Homo sapiens: one gene and its partners. The protein of the gene in region 1 interacts with the protein of each later gene in a pairwise test. Each region holds a gene or a part of one and is shown on either strand. Other genes may lie near its edges.

Region 1 (5,164 bases):
AGCTAATTTGTTTAGGACTGAATTAAGCAAGGGTGTGTTTAAGAGGTGGAATTTTGTGGTGGTCTTGTCTTCCTCAGGATCTCAGAACATACACAATTTTTCTAGATTCTATATCACGAACCCAATTAAAACATGAGAACTCAGTTGAGGATGCAAAGAGGCTTACCTGGTGACCAGTTCCTGAGGAGGAAGAGGCTGGCTTTCTTTCCCCTAAGCCTTCTAGTGCTATTGTCTTGACTCGCCTTCCTGTGCCAGTCTGAATATGGTTACCCAAACCAATCTAGGCACGTCTTCCCTTTCAGTGTTGCTAAGAGCCAAAAAGTCCACCGTCCATCCCAACAGTAACGATGTGCCCAATTACTTCTATAATCTCACGTTCTCAAATGAAATAATCTCGAATCTAGGTGAATCTTGGTGGATATAACAGAATGATTTAAAAAAAAATAGAAACTCTTTGGTATGTGGCACATTTAACATTCTGTGAAAATTCGGGTGTTTCTCATCAACTGGTCCAGCCATCTCTAGTAAAAGCAGCAGCAAAGTAAGAGAACTGAGATGAACCAAAAACTGTCTGCCAAAAACATATATAAAATGCAGTTAATTGAGCATTTGGGGGCAGAAAGGGTGAAGCCTTCTCTGGGCTTTTGCCCTTTGTTGCTAGTTGAGGTCAGTGCGGGATAGGCAAGATGTTGGGAGGGTCAACACAAAGTAGTTGTGTGGAGATCTCCCTCCCAGAAGGATGCCTCACAGGGAAGGAACTTCCCATTAAAGCTATGTGGTCCTGAAGAGGAGACACTCCAGTTAGTCTGAGCAGCTTTTCTGCAAGCACAGGACTGGTTAATTCTGGCCACTCCCTGTCTGCCTAGTAGTAGAGAGGAGTGGAGGGTCCATTTTCTGGGGTTAAGAACTTTGTTGACTCCTGCAACTGTAAGGCAGCTTGAAATGGAACTGCACCTACCAGGTGGGAACAGACCACACGTCAGATATAACTGGCACCTGCCTTAAACGTGTGGCCAGTTTGCTTTAAAATTAGGGCACATGCTACCAAGCATCTTGCTGAATATGGCACTGCAGTGCTCATACAGGGGTATTCATGGTAAAGGTGGAAGTGGAGCCTTTGTCTTAACAGGGAACCAACTGAATTGGTTAAAATTTTGATCAGATTAGCAGCAATATGCAGTAGTAGACTCAACCAAGAACCACAGACTTAGTTAGACATAATCTTGGATATATTATCCAAGGCTTATTATACAGAGTATGTTCAGAGGCCTGGCAGCATCAGCATCACCTGGCAGCTTGTCAGAAACACTCACTCTTAGGTCCCACCCCAGAACTTCTTAATCAGAAATATGCATTTTCCCTTAAATCCCCAGGTGCTACTTCTGCACACACAAGGATGACAAACACTGACACATACCACGGACTACCTCAACTAAAGACCAGTGTCAGTAATGGCTCAGGGAGGAGAGAAACAGCCCACTACTAGCTACACCTACTAGTTTCATAGTTCCAAGTTATATGTACCAATCTTCACTGCCAGTAGATCATGTGTGGTGCACAGAGGCAGAAGACAAAGGTTGCCCTTCACAGACCTGAGGTTTAAGCTTCAGCTGAAGCTTCGGAGTAAAAGTATCAAATAATTTTATTATGAAAGATAAGCCATTTATTGACCATTCACTTTTCTAAAAAAACACAAATGTGAGAATAAAATAAACATACCTAAGACTCACTGGCCCCTCCAGGACAGGAAGCAGCCCTGGACAGAGAGCCTGCAAACGAGTTTCCTTATGCCTAATGTCTGAACTTCTCATACATTCTAGGATTTCATGTTTCGTTACAAAGGAAAGGAAACTGGCTAGAAGATTCATGTACAAGAAGGTCACAACTTTAAAGCTATCTGACGCTAATGACTTGTACAATCTGGTTTGCAAACTCTGAGAGACAGTATCAAATAAGCACTGTCAAAGACTACTCCCAGCTAATCTTTACTGTCATTTTTCTTTGAAATTGTCTTTGGGACTGGCTATGTTCTCACTGTAGCTTCCGTTTATCCCACAGCACAAACCCTAAAGTCCATGTGCAGTCTCCATGTTCAAGTATAAAAGTCTGTTTCAGGACAACCCTGGGTTGCTGTAGTGTTTCTCTCTCTGTAGTGTCTACTTGGTGTCATGCCCTTGGACAGGCTGGCCAAATGGCAGCACAATGCAGGGGGTGACACGGTCAACTCTCCCACTGCCGAACTTGCTCCCCTTTCAATCTGGTCACTGCCCATGGTCAAGGTTGAAATCTTGAGATCAGTGACGACCTTGGCCTATCTTCAGTCTGAAGTTGCACTCTTATGTAACCGAATCCATTTCTTCACCAAAAATTAGCTTTCAAAAGGTGTCTGGCGTATTCTAAAAAGGAAAGATAATCATATCAAAATGTTATTTATTGATAACAGACTATATTCACTTTTATGTTCCTAAAGGAATTTACAATTAAAAAGAAAGACTTAAAATGAATGTTTTACACTCCATATTGGACTCAAGGGCTTCTCTCAATAGAGGAACAAAAAGACAGTCCTGATGCTCTTGCGTTGCTCATCACTGACACTCAAAACGCCCTAGTCAATTCACCTCACTTACTGATTATAACAGGCATCTCAGAGAATCTTAAAAAGAACACCAAATCAGAATGAAGGGATAAAACATATCCCAGCAGTCACCAACAACGGCGAAAAGTCCACTGCTAACTTCATCGCTGCTCCTACTAATGTCTCCCAAAACCTGCAAAAAGCATTCTTTTGTACATCTACAGCTGTTTAAAATTACATTTAATTCCAAATTTAATTTAAAAAGGGGGAGTGTTCCTAACAGAAGAATCCCATGGTAATTGATAGTGGTAAACAAACTCCTTCTAAATTCATGGAAATCGAGTCGCACTCAAAGCAGACTCTGAATCCCATTTAGGATATCACTTCAGAAGGCACTGCTTGATTTTAAATAAAATTGCAAGCCTAAGTTAACTCATGTCCAGGAGAGACTCATTTAAACATTTCAGCAAAATAAGACTTTCATTTGAATCCCCTTTATGCACACCAATCATCCCAGCTGATTTCTAATGAAGCATCTATCCATAGCTTACATGTTTAGCGCTGGTGGAACAGAAAATCAGTCACTGACACAGGAAACTGCTACTAATTAGTTCTCAGTAAAAAGTGACTTATAACAGTAGGTGAAGTCCATCTGCAGTAAATACTTCCTGAATGATCCTCAATTACGGCCTACCCCATTCCTATCCATTTTACATATCTACAAGCCAGAGATGCATACTCCTGGACAGAAGATAGGATACTGGACCTTAGGAAGTGTCCTGAGATGGAGCTGGAGGGTCCTGGCCTTCGGGCTCTGGAGGGGGTGCTGGCACAGCTGCTTTTTTCTGGGCCGCCAGGAACTCATGAATTGCTCGTTCTATTTGTGGCCTGAAGATGTGGTTAAGTTTTGGATCCACCACCTGAGAAATAATCCTGTCTACTCCAGCTTCCAACATCCCTGACCTTGTGGAGACAAACAGATCATTCTGTTATTTAGTTCCTTCGGGATTCATCTTTAGCCCCAATAAGTGTCACGTGCGAGCCCAATAAATGTCCACCTTCAAAGCTACAGCCCTTCTAGGGAGTTTAGAGGTCAATCCACTTACCATATACAGCTCACGCTATTTTCACTTTTGAGGGGTAATTCTCAACCAGCAGCTGTTATTCCTACTGCACAATCTCACCCACAATCACCCAACCTTGTACAAAAGAATCAAAAACAAAACTAAGTGAGTTGCTCCAAAACAACAAACAAATGACAGCATGGTGAGAAAGAGTTTGACACGTGTGGCACTGAAAAGCTTCCTCGTACTGTCAAAGCCAGTAAGCCCCGAATTGGACTCCATTTCCTTCAACATTTATTCTCCTAATAGCCTAAGCAGAAGTAGCTCCAGCAGCAACCTGTTTACTAATCCTTAAAATTTAAACAAGGCCGATCAGTCAGGGCTGGGAGTATTTACATCACCAGCAATTCACCATGGCCTTCAGCTGTAGTTGCTACCTGTAACACATAATAAGCAACTTGGAAGCAAACAAGAAATAGACAAACAAATTAGTTCCAAGCTCCTAGAGGGCTAAATTACATCCCCGATCCTTTCTGAAGTAGAGCAAAAATCAGGGCATATCAATGTCTATATTCAAACACTTGGGACAGGGTACTGGAAATGATGGTGAGAGGAAACAAATCATATTTGGACAGTCTGGAAAATAGCCCGTAAGGTTCAAAGTGAAGTGTTCTTCTCAAAGGACTGAAATATTCCAATACCATCACAAGCATGTGGGCAGGTTTTACTTATTTTCCCGTAGACTTGAGACTTCAGAGGCCATTTAAGCCTTCGGGTAAAAATAGGCTGGGCAGCAAGTGGGCAAATGGTCTGTCAGGGTACAGCAAAGGAAAGACATGAGTAAATGTACATCATGACAAAGAAGATAAGAAACAGGCTGTGAACTGGGAAAGATGATTAGTGTGTAAAGTGCTCCCTGGATTCAATGGTAACTAACAGCTTATCGACAGGAAGCCTAGATGTAAATACACCACCACTAGAGCACTGAAGGGCACATTTTCAGGTAGACCAGGCATTAGACAGTATCGGCCCTTAGTGATGAGCATCGTTAAATACAGCAAAGTTAGCATCCGGCTATGGGATGCTAACAAAGGAAAGCCACCTCTCCTCAGTCACAAGCCAATACCTTTCCAACTTTACCAAACCACTTCCTGAGTCGGATTCACAGGGTCCTTTACCAGATGTAAAAGCTTGATATTATCAACTAAATGCCTGTGTCCCCCAGACTTCCTATGTTGAAATCTAATCCTTAATGTGATGGCCTTTGGAGGTAGGGCCTTTGGGAGGCGATCGGGTCATGGGGGCAGAGCCTCCGCGAATGCAATTTATGCCCTTACAAAAGGGACCCCAGGAAGTTAGCGAGCTCTCTTTCCACCACATGAGAAGAACAAGCAGTTGGCAGTCTGCTGCCTGCAAGAAGGCCTTCCCCTGAACCTGACCATGCTGGCATCTTGGTCTTGGACTTCTAGCCTCCAGAATGGTGAGAAGTAAATTTCCATTGTTTACAAGCCACCTAGTCTACGGC
Region 2 (5,164 bases), on another chromosome or scaffold:
TCTGCCCAACTCGGCATCCCAGAGTGCTGGGATTACCGGCATGAGCCACCCCCAGTGTTTTCTATTGTGCTTCTCCAAGGTGTCTCAGCCGCAGATGTGACAGACAAGGTCTGGGTCCCCACTATGTGGGCAGACTCAATCTTGAGTAATTTAAGGGAAATCTAAGAAAAGCCAGATGAGGCCAAGTATGGTGGCTCACGCCTGTAATCCCAGCACTTTGGGATGCCAAGGCAAGCGGATCACCTGAGGTCAGGAGTTCGAGACCAGTCTGACCAACATGATGAAACCCCGTCTCTACTAAAAATAAAAAACTTTGCCAGGCGTGGTGGCGGGCGCCTGTAATCCCAGCTACTCGGGAGGCTGAGGCTAGAGAATCGCATGAACCCGGGAGGCAGAGGTTGCGGTGAGCTGAGATGATGCCACTTCCCACGTGAGGATGGGGTAGTTAAGTTGCACGACACTGCCTTCTGCACAATGGGGATGATATGAGAAATGATGAGAGGATCCTGGGCAGAGGTTGAGGCAGGAGAGCAGGGCAAGAAACACTATCTGGACTGAATAAACTTATTTAAAAATGAGTTTATAATTTGTGGATAAATTCATCTTAAAAAATCCATTACATAAGCCTAGAAAGAAGCGTACAATATCGCAAGTCAGGCCAGGTGTGGTGGATCATGCCTGTAATCCCAGCACTTTGGGAGGCCAAGGCAGGCAGATCATTTGAAGCCAGGAGTTTAAGACCAGCCTGGCCAACATGGTGAAACCCTGTCTTTACTAAAAATACAAAAATTAGCCGGGTGTGGTGGTGCATGCCTGTAATCCCAGCTACTCAGGAGGCTGAGGCACGAGAATCGATTGAACTCAGGAGGCAGAGGTTGCAGTGGGCAGAGATCTCGCCACTGCACTCCAGCCTGGATGACACAGTGAAATTCTGTCCACTCCCACCCTCCCGTCCCACCCAAAAAAAAAATCAAAAGGTGCATTGAGCAACAGAATTTCCTTTTGTTTTATGAAATTACCAAGGACACCTGTCTGCAGCCTTCTTCGGCATGTCTTGTGCTCATTTCCTTGTTAGGGGAGTGTGGCCCAGCCAAAGTGGCCTTTGCAGGGATTGGGGAGGGAGTTGTGGGATCAGAGCTTGTAATGAAGACCTTCCTTTATCCAGAGTTATGTTTACCGAGGACCTGAAGCTGCCTGCAAGCTTCGATGCACGGGAACAATGGCCACAGTGTCCCACCATCAAAGAGATCAGAGACCAGGGCTCCTGTGGCTCCTGCTGGGTAAGGCCCTGCTGGCTGGCGGGGAAGCGCTGGAGAGAAAGTGGGAGCAACACTGGAGAGTCTTGGGGGATTCGGGGTGGGGACAACTCTGACAAGGCAAGTTATAGAAACTTTCTGAGTCCCAGTTTCCATCAGTACAAAAATCACAATCCCTCTGGCCATGAATGATGGCGAGGATTAGGTGGAGTGGCGGGCAGAGCATCCAGCAGATTGCAAGTCCACGTGTACAGGTGGCGAAGCAGCTCCCTTTCCCTGACATGCTGGCCCGTCCGCAAATACCAGGAGCTCTCACTGCTACTCTGCTTCAAGAAAGCATCCCTTTAGTGTCAGTGAGCTGTCTTAATTTTGTCATTTAATTGTGGTAAAATACACGTAACAGAAATGTAATAATCTTAGCAATCTTCTTTTGTTTTCTTTTTCTTTCTTTTTTTTTTTTTTTTTTTTTTGGAGATGGAGTCTTGCTCTGTCACCCAGGCTGGAGTGCAGTGGTGGGATATTGGCTCACTGCAACCTCTGCCTCCTGGGTTCAAGCAATTCTCCTGCCTCAGTCTCCCCAGTAGCTAAGACTACAGGCATGTGCCACCACGCCCAGCTAATTTTTGTATTTTTAGTAGAGATGGGGTTTTGCCATGTTGGACAGCCTGGTCTCAAACGCCTCACCTGTTGATCTGCCTTCCTCGGCCTCGCAAAATGCTGGGATTACAGGCGTGAGCCACCGTGCCCAGCAACTATTTTCAAGTGTACAGTTCTGTAGCATTAAGTACATTCACAGTGTTGCTCAGCCACCACCACCATCTGTCCCCCGAACTCTTTTTCAGCTCGCAAGACAGAAACTCTGTCCCCATTAACACCAATATTGTAGCCCCTGGTAAGCCCCACTCTACTTTCTGTCTCTATGAATTTGACTCCTAGGGACCTCATACAAGTGGATCACAACAGTATTTATTTTCTGGGTGAGCTGTGTTTTTTGTTAAGAAAAAAACACAGCCAGGTACGGTAGCTCACGCCTGTAATCTCAACACTTTGGGAGGCTGAGGCAGGCGGATCACCTGAGGTCAGGAGTTTGAGACCAACCTGGCCAACATGGTGAAACCCTGTCTCTACTAAAAAGACAAAACTTAGCTGGGCCTGGTGGCAGGCACCTATAATCCCAGCTACTATAGAGGCTGAGGCAGGAGAATTGCTTGAACCCAGGAGGCGTAGGTTGCAGTGAGCTGAGATTGCGCCACTGCATTCCAGCCTGGGCAACAAAAGTGAAACTCCGCCTCCAGGAAAAAAAAAAAAAACCACACACACACATACAAACTAATACTACACATTTTGCAGATTTCAGAAATGAACCCAGTTTCCAGGCAGAGGTTCACGGGGGTGCTTCTCTTGCTTTAAAAGCTGAGTTGGGCAAATCGTTGAGGCAGGAGAGTGGGGCAAGTGGCTCATCACGCCTCTAATCCCAGCACTTTGGGAGGCCAAGGTGGGCAAATCACTTGAACCCGGGAGTTCAAGACCAGTCTGGCCAACGTAGCAAGACCCCATTTCTACCAAAGAAAATAAAAGCTGAGTTTGAGCCCCAGGAGCGTCCCCTGGTGTTGAGAGATCAGTTGCCTACAAGGTCTGAGGTGCCCCTGTGGCCCTTTGAGGGGACTGCTGCAGAGGGCCCAGCCCGGACATGGCAGCCTCACCCGGTGGGGCTCGTTCCTGCAGGCCTTCGGGGCTGTGGAAGCCATCTCTGACCGGATCTGCATCCACACCAATGCGCACGTCAGCGTGGAGGTGTCGGCGGAGGACCTGCTCACATGCTGTGGCAGCATGTGTGGGGACGGGTGAGTCAGGCTGTGCTTCCACAGCGGGTTTAGTGCTGAGAGACCCTGGGCCCCAGCTTCTCAGTGGAGGGGACTTTGAGGACTTCCTGGGACTGCTGCGAGTCAGAAGTGTTTCGGGGAGACTCCGAGAGTCTGGCAGGCAGGGCCTGGCAAGGCTGCTGCTTCCTGGGAGGTGCCTGAACCAAGGCTGGCCCGGCAGAGCTGTCTGAGGGGTGGCATCCCAGCAAAACAGTCAGTTTCAGAAAATGTGGTGGAATGTCTGGCCCCTGGTCTGGTTTGTGTCATCGCATGTTCCTTTTTCCTGCTTGGGGAACCAGTTTGGGGCATTTCCTTATGTGTAGTTAGCGGGGATGGCTCCACCTTAACAACAAGGTGGTGGCACAGAACTTTCTGCTCCAGCTGCCTGCAGCCTCGCCTTGGTTCCGCAGTAGCGGTGTTCACTGGCGGCTGCAGATCCGAAATGCCTGAGGGCTTAAAAAAATGCATGGGCTTCTCCCCTAACTAGTTAAATGGGAATCACTGGCGATTCTCATTTCAGAGAACTGGTGGTGTTTTTAAGTACCTTAGGGAAGTTTAGCGTCTGCTCAGTTGAGAATCAGTGTTCTACCCGGAAGGGCACTCGTAGCCTGGTCTGGTATGGACATGAACAGGAGAGCCTCCTGTCTTCTCCCGGATCTTTGTGGGCAGGGGTGGGGCTGGCGGTTATTCCCTGCAAGCTGTGCTTATCTAGGGAGCGTCCCTTGGAGGGTTTGGGGTCTGGGAGGTCTGCTCGCACCACTTGCTGCAGCTGGGGGTGGGTCCACGAGTGGCCTCGGGCACTTGGGTAGCACACAGTGGTCTGGAGAGCTGGTGGTGCTTCTCTCAGAGGTTTTCATTAGAGGCTGTCTTTTCAGCTGTAATGGTGGCTATCCTGCTGAAGCTTGGAACTTCTGGACAAGAAAAGGCCTGGTTTCTGGTGGCCTCTATGAATCCCATGTAGGTAAGTGTGTCCCCTTGGCCACTTTCTGGCCAGATGGATTGTTTGAGCAATTAACCATCATGGCTTTATTTGCCTTTATAAACTGGGGGTTGAGACAGAGGGGCTGCTGAGAGGTGCTAGCCAGGTGCACAGGCCTCTGGCAGGACCTGCCTGGCGTCCATGCTGCAGGCACGAGGCTTGCCTTGCCCCAGGTCTTCTCCGTGGGGGCTGTAGGTTGACTCCGCTTTCTCCCGCGTCCCATCAGGGTGCAGACCGTACTCCATCCCTCCCTGTGAGCACCACGTCAACGGCTCCCGGCCCCCATGCACGGGGGAGGGAGATACCCCCAAGTGTAGCAAGATCTGTGAGCCTGGCTACAGCCCGACCTACAAACAGGACAAGCACTACGGTAAGGGGCCTGGGGCCTGGCCACGGCGCACGTGGAGGCTGGGGAGCTGCTGCATCCCTCCTCACGCTGCAGCGAAGAGGTCAGGGCTGAGGAGCCTTGGGGTCCCGGAACTCTAGGATAGAGGAGGGGGAGTGATGCCCTCTTGCCAGGAGAAGCAGCACACTCTCCACTTTCTGCCTGTTCCACCCTGAACTCAGCCTCAGCCCTTCCAAACTGGAAGGGACCAAAGCCCTCCTTTTACAAGGGAGTGGCGTGTCCTGGAGTCTTGAGGTATCCTGGCCTCTTCCGGGGCCTCGTGCTCATTGCTCCGTTCTCCCATTTCTGAGCTTCCAGCCCCAGCCCTGTCCTTAGTTCTTCAGGGGAGCCTTCCTTGAGCTCCCCTGGCAGGGCAAGTCCCCTTAGATGCAGTCTTCCCCTGGAGGCCACCAGAAATCAGTGACTGGCTGACCGTGGCGTGCCACGAGGCACGGTCACTGCCCTCCCCAACCCCGAGCTCGGTTCATTTTCCAGGATACAATTCCTACAGCGTCTCCAATAGCGAGAAGGACATCATGGCCGAGATCTACAAAAACGGCCCCGTGGAGGGAGCTTTCTCTGTGTATTCGGACTTCCTGCTCTACAAGTCAGGTGCGTGCTGATGGCTGATGGCAATAGAGGGTGGGGGTCGGGAGGGGAGCCTGGGTGCCAGGATGGTTCA
Region 3 (5,164 bases), on another chromosome or scaffold:
TTTTTTTTTTTTTGAGACAGAGTCTCGCTCTTGTTGCCCAGGCTGGAGTACAGTGGCAAGATCTCGGCTCACCGCTGCCTCAGCCTCCCGAGTAGCTGGGACTACAGGCATACACCACCACACCCGGCTAATTTTTTGTATTTTTAGTAGAGACAGGGTTTCTCCATGTTGGTAAGGCTGATCTTGAATTCCCGACCTCAGGTGATCCACCTGCCTCCGCCTCCCAAAGTGCTGGGATTACAGGTGCGAGCCACAGCGCCCAGCCCAGAACTGCATACTTTCTTTTTTCATTATTTGAAGCTATGGTTGCAGCTGTTTTTTTCTTATCAGATGTCATCTGGAGTATTTTGTTCTTGCCTTTATCAGGATGGTGGTTTTTTTTTTTTTTTTTTTTTTTGAGATGGAGTCTTGTTTGCTCTGTCACCCATGCTGGAGTGCAGTGATGCCATCTCAGCTCACTGCAACCTCCACCTCCCGGCTTCAAGTGATTCTCCTGCTTCAACCTTCCGAGCAGCTGGGATTACAGGTGCACACCACCACATCCGGCTAATTTTTTTTGTAGTAAAGACGGGGTTTCACCATGTTGGCCAGGGTGGTCTCAAACTCCTGACCTCAGGTAATCCGCCTACCTCGGCCCCCCAAAGTGTTGGGATTACAGGTGTGAGCCACGGCACCTGGCCGGTTTTTTTTGTTTTTTTTTTTAATAAATACTGCATAGAGATGTATCCTCTTGATGCTCAGCCCTTCCCTATTGTCCAACATTTGAGCTGTTTCCAATATTTGCTATTATAAGAGGCATCCAAGCATTTCTGACCAGGTCCCTTTTTTCTTTTTGGATTATTTCCTTTTTTTTTTTTTTTTTTTTGAGATGGAGTCTCGCTCTGTTGCCCAGGCTGGAGTGCAGTGGCGTGATCTCAGCTCACTGCAAGCTCTGCCTCCTGGGTTCACACCATCCTCCTGCCTCAGCCTCCCGAGTAGCTGGGACTACAGGCGCACGCCCGGCTAATTTTTTTATATTTTTAGTAGAGACGGGGTTTCACCGTGTTAGCCAGGATGGTCTGGATCTCCTGACCTTGTGATCTGCCCGCCTCAGCCTCCCAAAGTGCTGGGATTATAGGCATGAGCCACCACGCCTGGCCTGGATTATTTCTTGGAAGTGGAAGTTTTGAGTCAAAAACTAGAAATTGTTTTTAATCTTTGTTACTATTACCAGATTGTTTTTCAGAAGCAGTCAAACTAATTTAAAACACTCACTCCCAACAGGGCATTCTGGCTCATGCCTACAATCCCAGCACTTTGGGAGGCCAAGGCAGGTGGATCACCTGAGGTCAGGAGTTCGAGACCAGCCTGGCCAACATGGTGAAACCCTGTCTCTACTAAAAATACAAAAATTAGCTGGGCGTGGTGGTGCACACCTGTAATCCCAGCTACTCAGGAGGCTGACACAGGAGAATCGCTTGAACCCGGGAGGTGGAAGTTGCAGTGAGCCGAGATTGCACCACTGCACTCCAGCCTGGGTGACAGAGCGAGACGCTGTCTCAAAAAAAAAAAACAAAAAAAACCCACACACACCCATTCCCTTAAACACTCAAAGTCTTTTTCACTTCAGGACTAATTTATTACTTAATCTCTAGGTTACTAAGTAGTCATAATGAGGCAAGTAGGGCATGTGGGAGTCAGACAGACTTGGGCTTGAACACAATCTTGCTGTATATTACTGCTGAACCTCAAGGGTTTGTTTTGTTTTTTGTTGTTGTTGTTGTTTTTGAGACAGTCTCGCTCTGTTGCCCAGGCTGGAGTGCAGTGGCACAATCTCGGCTCACTGCAGCCTCTGGCTTCCTGCAGCCTCTGCCTCCTGGGTTCAAGGGATTTTCCTGCCTCAGCCTGCTGAGCAGCTGGGATTACAGGCATGAGCCACCGCGCCCAGCCTGCATGGGCTCATTCTCTTATCTGACATGGAGAGAGAAAAGGGTGCAGACATCCAGGCTAGCCTCCTTCCGTGGCCATTTCTACTCTTACCACCCACCCCTTCCTCCATTTCTCCTATATAGTTCCTGCCTCACGCTGGGGACCGCATCTTGATCACGGGGGCAGCCGACTCTAAGGTGCATGTGCACGACCTGACAGTAAAGGAGACCATCCACATGTTTGGAGACCACACAAACCGGGTGAAGCGCATCGCCACAGCGCCCATGTGGCCCAACACATTCTGGAGTGCTGCTGAGGATGGGCTTATCCGGTAAGAGTCTGGGGCATCTAGTGGAGCCTGTCGCTCCCCCATCCCATCATCCTATAGTGTTTCCTTCTACAGACCTAGCTCTTTCCCTCCAGCAGAGGTCCAACCTCCTTTGTCTGCCCAGGGCAGTTGTCTGTGTACAAACTCCACTGGGAACATTTGCTTACTCCGCCCTCACCTTCCTCCCTCTTTGCCCTCCTTTGTACTACCTCTAGGCCCACAAGCTTTTTCTCACCACCTCAGGTGTCCAGGGTCTCTACTGCCTCTGGGCATTCACGTTACTCTTTCCTCTACTTGAGATTCTCTGTCCCCAGCTCTTCCCATGTCGGACTCTTTCTTATCCTAAGGAGATCAGCTTCAGTTACCTCTTCAGAAGCACCTTCTCTGACCATCCTGTCTAAAGTAGACAGACGTTATGCTTGTTTTAACAATTATATCCTCTGTAACTCTAATTGCCACCTGTAGTTATTTTTATTAATTAATTAATTTTTATTTATTTATTTTTTTTTTTATTGATCATTCTTGGGTGTTTCTCGCAGAGGGGGATTTGGCAGGGTCATATGACAATAGTGGAGGGAAGGTCAGCAGATTAACAAGTGAACAAAGGTCTCTGGTTTTCCTAGGCAGAGGACCCTGCGGCCCTCTGCAGTGTTTGTGTCCCTGGGTACTTGAGATTAGGGAGTGGTGATGACTCTTAATGAGCATGCTGCCTTCAAGCATCTGTTTAACAAAGCACATCTTGCACCGCCCTTAATCCATTTAACCCTGAGTGGACACAGCACATGTTTCAGAGAGCACAGGGTTGGGGGTAAGGTCACAGATCAACAGGATCCCAAGGCAGAAGAATTTTTCTTAGTACAGAACAAAATGAAAAGTCTCCCATGTCTACTTCTTTCTACACAGACACGGCAACCATCCGATTTCTCAATCTTTTCCCCACCTTTCCCCCCTTTCTATTCCACAAAACCGCCATTGTCATCCTGGCCCGTTCTCAATGAGCTGTTGGGTACACCTCCCAGACGGGGTGGTGGCCAGGCAGAGGGGCTCCTCACTTCCCAGTAGGGGTGGCCGGGCAGAGGCACCCCTCACCTCCCGGACGGGGCGGCTGGCCGGGCGGGGGGCTGACCCCCCCCCCACCTCCCTCCCGGACGGGGCGGCTGGCTGGGCGGGGGGCTGACCCCCCCACCTCCCTCCCGGACGGGGCGGCTGGCCGGGCAGGGGGCTGACCCCCCCACCTCCCTCCTGGACGGGGCGGCTGGCTGGGCAGAGGGGCTCCTCACTTCCCAGTAGGGGCGGCCGGGCAGAGGCGCCCCTCACCTCCCGGACGGGGCGGCTGGCCGGGCAGAGGGGCTCCTCACTTCCCAGACGGGGTGGTTGCCGGGCGGAGAGGCTCCTCACTTCTCAGACGGGGCGGCTGCCGGGCAGAGGGGCTCCTCAGTTCTCAGACGGGGTGGTTGCCAGGCAGAGGGTCTCCTCACTTCTCAGACGGGGCGGCTGGGCAGAGACGCTCTTCACCTCCCAGACGGGGTCGCGGCCGGGCAGAGGCGCTCCTCACATCTCAGACGATGGGCGGCCGGGCAGAGACGCTCCTCACTTCCTAGATGGGATGGCGGCCGGGCAGAGACGCTCCTCACTTTCCAGACTGGGCAGCCAGGCAGAGGGGCTCCTCACATCCCAGACGATGGGCGGCCAGGCAGAGACGCTCCTCACTTCCCAGACGGGATGGCGGCCAGGCAGAGGCTGCAATCTCGGCACTTTGGGAGGCCAAGGCAGGCGGCTGGGAGGTGGAGGTTGTAGCAAGCCGAGATCACGCCACTGCACTCCAGCCTGGGCACCATTGAGCACTGAGTGAACGAGACTCCGTCTGCAATCCCGGCACCTCGGGAGGCCGAGGCTGGCGGATCACTCGCGGTTAGGAGCTGGAGACCGGCCCGGCCAACACAGCGAAACCCCGTCTCCACCAAAAAAATACGAAAACCAGTCAGGCGTGGCGGCACGCGCCTGCAATCGCAGGCACTCGGCAGGCTGAGGCAGGAGAATCAGGCAGGGAGATTGCAGTGAGCCGAGATGGCAGCAGTACAGTCCAGCTTCGGCTCGGCATCAGAGAGAGACCGTGGAAAGAGAGGGAGAGGGAGACCGTGGAAAGAGAGGGAGAGGGAGACCGTGGGGAGAGGGAGAGGGAGACCGTGGGGAGGGGGAGGGGGAGAGGGAGAGGGAGCTAATTAATTTATTTTCTGAGACAGGGTCTCACTCCATTCTATTGCCGAGGTTGGAGTGCAGTGGCGTGATCATGGCTCACTGCAGCCTTGACTTCCTGGGCTCAGGCGATTCTCCCACCTCAGCCTCCTGAATACCTGGGACTACAGACACGCTCCACCATGCTTGGCTAATTTTTCTATTTTTTTTGTAGAGATGGGGTTTCTCTGTGTTGCCCAGGCAGGTCTCAAACTCCTGGGCTCAAGTGATCCTCCCACCTCGGCCTCCCACAGTGCTATGATTGCTGGTGTGAGCTACCACACCTGGCCTTATTTTATTTTTACTTATTGGTTTACTTTTTTGTCTGTATCCTCACTAAATAGTAAAAGTAAACTCTCTTAGAGCAACTCCATGTCTGTCTTGTTCTTGGTTGTATCCCTAGAGCCCAGCACAGCGCCTGGCACATAGAGCCGCTTGATACATTTCTCTTGAACAGTTGGTCAGTGGCTATATACCTGGGAGGGGGCAAGCCACCCGGAAATGGTAAAATGGACTGTCCCCTTTTCCAGTGCCCTGCATTGTTACACATTTGCCTCTACTTCCCTTCATTCTAAAATGGTGTCGTTGCCCTTCTTTAACTCCTTTCTTCAGCTGTGACCTTAGAACTTCTTTCTTATCTCCCCAGCCTGCTTTAATCTGTCTCCCTTGAGTTCCTGTAGGACTTTGTGCCCT
Region 4 (4,781 bases), on another chromosome or scaffold:
GCTGCCCAGGCTGGAGTGCAATGGCACAATCTAGGCTCACCGCAACCTCCACCTCCCGAGTTCAAGTGATTCTCCTGCCTCGGCTTCCCAAGTAGCTGGGATTACAGGCACGCACCACCACACCTGGCTAATTTTGTATTTTTAGTAGAGACGGGGTTTCTCCATGTTGGTCAGGCTGGTCTTGTACTCCCGACCTCAGGTGATCTGCCTGCATCAGCCTCCCAAAGTGCTGAGATTACAGGTGTGAGCCACTGCTCTCGGCCTACCATATTTCATAGCACCAATCACCAGGTCTGTCTCTGTGTAATAATATTTCCTTCATTTTTTAATAACGCAATTTTCTTTCCCCATCAGACCATAAACCACTAAGAGCAAAACTATGAATTTATTCACACCTTTGTGTGTTGCTGTTATGCATATAAGAGTATTCAAAAATTACTTTGTTTTTCTTTAATGTATTAATACAATAAATCTCCAAACTAATTTTTTCTTTTATAGGTCTTTATAAGCCTTGGTATAATTTATAAGCTTGGTTAATTAAATTTCTTTATGAAAATAATCATTGCATCAAATATTCATGGAGCTAGAATTTTTGGCATGCTAATGTCTTTTTACAGATGACAAGGTTGTGATTTGATCCATAACTACGGCCATGACTGCCAGGCTCTTGAAAAGATCTTGAATTCTTTTCACATACTTATTACTCAAAGGCCATATTCCTTAGAACTGTTACATTTATTTATTAGTAACACCTTAATGTAAGATGGTAAAATAGCATCTGATTGAAGGCAGAAAAGCTCTCCTGCCATTGTCTGGCTTGCAGGCATAAGATTTAACATCTTTCTACTTACATATTTTCACCCATGATGGCATCCACTAAACCTAAATCAGTGTCTGGCTCATGAATGAACAAAATATAAGCTCAGAATGGCATAAGAAAACCTTATTCATGGATCCCATCCAAACACAAATTCACAATGCTTAAAAATGAAAAGTAAATCCTGTAATGCTCAAATTTATGTAGTTATCTTAGAAAAAAAAAATATTTTTAATTGCCTGGAGTCCTCATAGCTTCTTGTTAAGCTTAACAAGAGGTATAAAGCCATGACTAAAATATTCACACTCCACTCTAGTCCCTATTTAAAAAAAATAAAAAAGGGAATCACTAGTTTATTCATCTTGCCTAATGACACAGAAGGGCAAAACAAGCACCCAAACAATGAATAATAATGTAAGAGCTCAGACTGTAAAATCAATATGTCAGATCAGCAGAGCTTTGCTTCGTTTTAGTGCTCTCATGTCTGAATGCAGCACAGCTTATCTTCTGAATTATATATATATATATTGGCCTAATTACATAAATATTGACTTTTCCTTATATGAAGTTTATTCTTTCAATCTCTCTGTAATTACCATGTCAATATTTGTGGCTGTAGTAACAATGAATTTAAATCTGTTAATTGTGACTGATAGTGGCATGCTATGAGATAATTCAGTCACTTAGTCTCAGAACACTGATGGCACTAGATAATAAGTGATGAATCAGTAATTCCCTAGGTATATCGTACTAAGGTAAACATCTTTAAAAAGCAATTCTTTCAACCCAGTTAATTAAGGGGATAGTTTTTTCCTCAACTTGTCAGGTTTCATAACGTACGGAAGTAATAACCAGAATGCGACTGGATCTTGGTGTATGACTTTGCCCGCTTTTTTTTAAATGAAACACTTTATCCCTAACTTCATTCTCCAGTCCACCCATTAACAACTTCTTTGATCTGTTGATAGATATCTACACCTCCATCCTCACAGCTGTATGTGTGTATGGAAGATATAATTTAACATTTGTTGCTATTATTCTTTGCTATTTGCTATTTCCATAAAGGTCCTAATTCCTGATCTCACTTACATGTGGAATCTAAAATAGCTGAAGTCATAAAAGGGGAAAGTAAAAGGGTGGCTGCCAGGGGATGGATGTGGGGAAGGGAGGGGAGATGGTGGTTGGAGGGTACAAAGTTTAGTTAGACAGGAGGAAGAAATGTTTTAGACCATTGCGCAGCATGGTAACTATCATTCATAATGTACTGTATATTTCCAAATTGCCAAGAAGGTACATTTCAAATGTTCCCTCCACAAGAAAAATGCTAAGGATGTGAGGTGATGGATATGCTAGCCAGCTTGACTTTATCATTCCTCCTGGTATACTTGTCAAAATATCACATTGTACCCCATCAATATCTATAAAATTTGTCAAGTAAAAATGAAAATAAATTTGAAAAAGATCTTAGGCCTACTTTATTCTAATGTAAAATATGATCTGTAGAAATTCTACTTTTAAAAAATATTTTATTCAATTATATCCCCTCAACTGGTTTTATTTTCATGGGAAAAGTTTTCAGTTACTGAAGGTGATAAATCTCTGAAACAAGAACTAATCCCATACCTAGGATATATTAATTAATTAAATGTCTTCACTTACTTACCAGTGGCAGAGAAATGTTCCAAAAATTTTAAAAAGCTAAAAATCTTTTCACTTTGCTCTTATAATATTTGAGAATTTTCACACAAGAGCTTGAACTCTCCAATCTAAGTAGGACAGAAATACCTGTGTCATATTAATTATGTTAGAGTTAGGTGAACATAGAGAATGGTCCCCAAAAACAATGCTGTCCACACTTTGAGTTTAAGAGTTGTTCTAGACGTATTATGGTGAAGTGGTCATGCATCACCTGTGCTTTCTTATTTGCCTCTACAGGGATGCCAGATGATATGAACTTCAGTGATGTAAAGCAAATCCATCAAACAGACACTGGCAGTACTTTAGACACAACAGGAGCAGGATGTGCAGTGGCGACTGAATCTATGACATTCACTCTGATAAGTGTGGTGATGTTACTTCCCGGGATTTGGTAACTGAACTCTTCTGTCCTGACATACCTTACTGAAGTCTCGATTTCTTCTCTCTCTGCATATGCCTGGAATAAGAGATCCTTTTTCAATGTAACAATTATATTTATGAAAAGATATGTTACACTAACTTCTCAGAAGCCAAGCTGAAATATTCATAAAGTCCCTAAAACTCAACGTTTAAATGACACACTTTAAAAATATGTCTTTTTTCAATCTAACTGAAAACCTTCTTAACTTCTAATATATTAAATCTGAAGATGTGAAGGGCACAGAAGTGACTTTGAATAAGAAGAATTTAGTGTATCTGTAATTTTATTATCAATTCCAAGCCCCTTCCTTTCTAAATTAAAAATGTTTTCATTTGAAAGTGTATTTGCCAGACAATGAAAACAGTATGCAGTATTTCTTAAAGTATTGAAATTAGAATATCATGAAATAAATCAAAACATACAATGGCAAGTAGTATGCATGCATATTCAAGAGACTCTTCCATTTTTGCAAGCTGTAGAAGGAAATGTCTGAATGTCTATAAGTTATGGGGTAGATTCTTGAGAAGCATTTCATATAATTTCACTGAAGAACCTTGATAATTTTGACCCACTGTAACTTAGCCACTGATGAACCTTAAAGCTGAGTATTTTATTAACACCTGATTTGTATTCCATTATATTCAAAATGCATCTTTGGTATTGTGCCTCTGCTCCCATCTCTCTCTTTGCCTCATAGATTTAGCTATGTTGGGAAGCACATGCTTGCTCTAGGAATATCTCCAATAAAGCTGTTAACTATTTGGTGGAAAAATTTGAAGAATATTTGTCATTTTCTTCTGGCAAAAATGCTATTTTCACCCATTTTCAAAATATTATGTACTACTTTTTAAAGCCTGATGTTGTACAATTGGCTACCTTTGCATTTCTAAGGTTCCTATGAATATCTGCAGACATGTACAGAAAAGATGATATGCAACACTTTAGCTCTTTCCTATTTGCTCATTAATGGAGCTGCAAACCAACAGTCCCTAATTTCTCAGTTGGGATAAGTTGCCTCAATAGACACTAATAGGATATGTATATGGCTATACTTGAGGAAAAGAGAAGTTAGTTTTTATTAATAAGTATCACATCCAGTCTACAGAGAGAAAATATAATTAATACAAAGTCACAGAATAGAAAAGGGAATTGCTGACCTCAAATAAAAAAAAACAAAAAAAAATTTGAAATGACTTCTGACAAAGACGTAAACAAGACACAGCCAAATGCAAACATTAATAAGGTAAAATCCGTTTCTGCTAGTCAGGAAACAATATATGATCAAACCTTGTTCTCGCTTAAGTTCTCAATTAACAAAATGATCTAAGGATGGTTAGTTTAAATCACAACATTTTTAAGCTGCCCAATCAGGTTTTACCCTCCATTCAAACATGCCTCAGAACCGTAAGTGTTATTCTACCCATCAGTTGTGGATGCCATTTTCCTAGGCTTCCATTCCACACCTAACATTCCCTGATCCATTCAGTTAATAACTCATTTGCACTCACCTTGACACACTCCACAAATTACAAACTTAACCCTATTTTGAAAATTTTTTACTTCAACCTCAGCTCTTCATTTAAATCAGTCTTGGAAAAAAGTGATACTAAGGCACTCATTTGCTGCCCTCCAGCCCAAGTCATGATTGGCTTGCTACGGCAAAATTTCAGACCCAACTTAAGAGGAATTTAATTCTAAAGACAAACAAACTGAAGAGCATGCTTTAGCAGTCTAAGATATATGGATAAAATTAATTGACAGAAGATAATTTCAGATATGGCAAGAAATGGACAAAAGCAGAGTGGTAAAGTCAATACAAGAAATGATTATTTTTTTTTAAACTAA

Evidence for each region.
Region 2: the proteins of BOD1 (region 1) and CTSB interact in binary tests that used the Homo sapiens proteins (3 or more experiments, as listed by UniProt).
Region 3: the proteins of BOD1 (region 1) and WDTC1 interact in binary tests that used the Homo sapiens proteins (3 or more experiments, as listed by UniProt).
Region 4: the proteins of BOD1 (region 1) and GPC5 interact in binary tests that used the Homo sapiens proteins (3 or more experiments, as listed by UniProt).

What each region holds. Positions count from the first base shown.
Region 1 is NC_000005.10:173,605,897-173,611,060, forward strand, and holds the end of BOD1 (biorientation of chromosomes in cell division protein 1), read right to left. Parts: intron 3,775-5,164; exon of another isoform or gene 3,682-3,774; intron 3,539-3,681; coding exon 3,343-3,538; 3' UTR 3,342-3,342; intron 2,397-3,341; coding exon of another isoform or gene 2,369-2,396; 3' UTR 1,249-2,368; downstream 1-1,248. UniProt on the Homo sapiens protein: Required for proper chromosome biorientation through the detection or correction of syntelic attachments in mitotic spindles.
Region 2 is NC_000008.11:11,846,982-11,852,145, reverse strand, and holds part of CTSB (cathepsin B isoform 1 preproprotein), read left to right. Parts: intron 1-1,165; coding exon 1,166-1,280; intron 1,281-2,981; coding exon 2,982-3,100; intron 3,101-3,993; coding exon 3,994-4,079; intron 4,080-4,323; coding exon 4,324-4,467; intron 4,468-4,977; coding exon 4,978-5,094; intron 5,095-5,164. UniProt on the Homo sapiens protein: Thiol protease which is believed to participate in intracellular degradation and turnover of proteins. Cleaves matrix extracellular phosphoglycoprotein MEPE. Involved in the solubilization of cross-linked TG/thyroglobulin in the thyroid follicle lumen.
Region 3 is NC_000001.11:27,285,623-27,290,786, forward strand, and holds part of WDTC1 (WD and tetratricopeptide repeats protein 1), read left to right. Parts: intron 1-2,051; coding exon 2,052-2,239; intron 2,240-5,164. UniProt on the Homo sapiens protein: May function as a substrate receptor for CUL4-DDB1 E3 ubiquitin-protein ligase complex.
Region 4 is NC_000013.11:92,863,530-92,868,310, forward strand, and holds the end of GPC5 (glypican-5 precursor), read left to right. Parts: intron 1-2,752; coding exon 2,753-2,910; 3' UTR 2,911-3,708; downstream 3,709-4,781. UniProt on the Homo sapiens protein: Cell surface proteoglycan that bears heparan sulfate.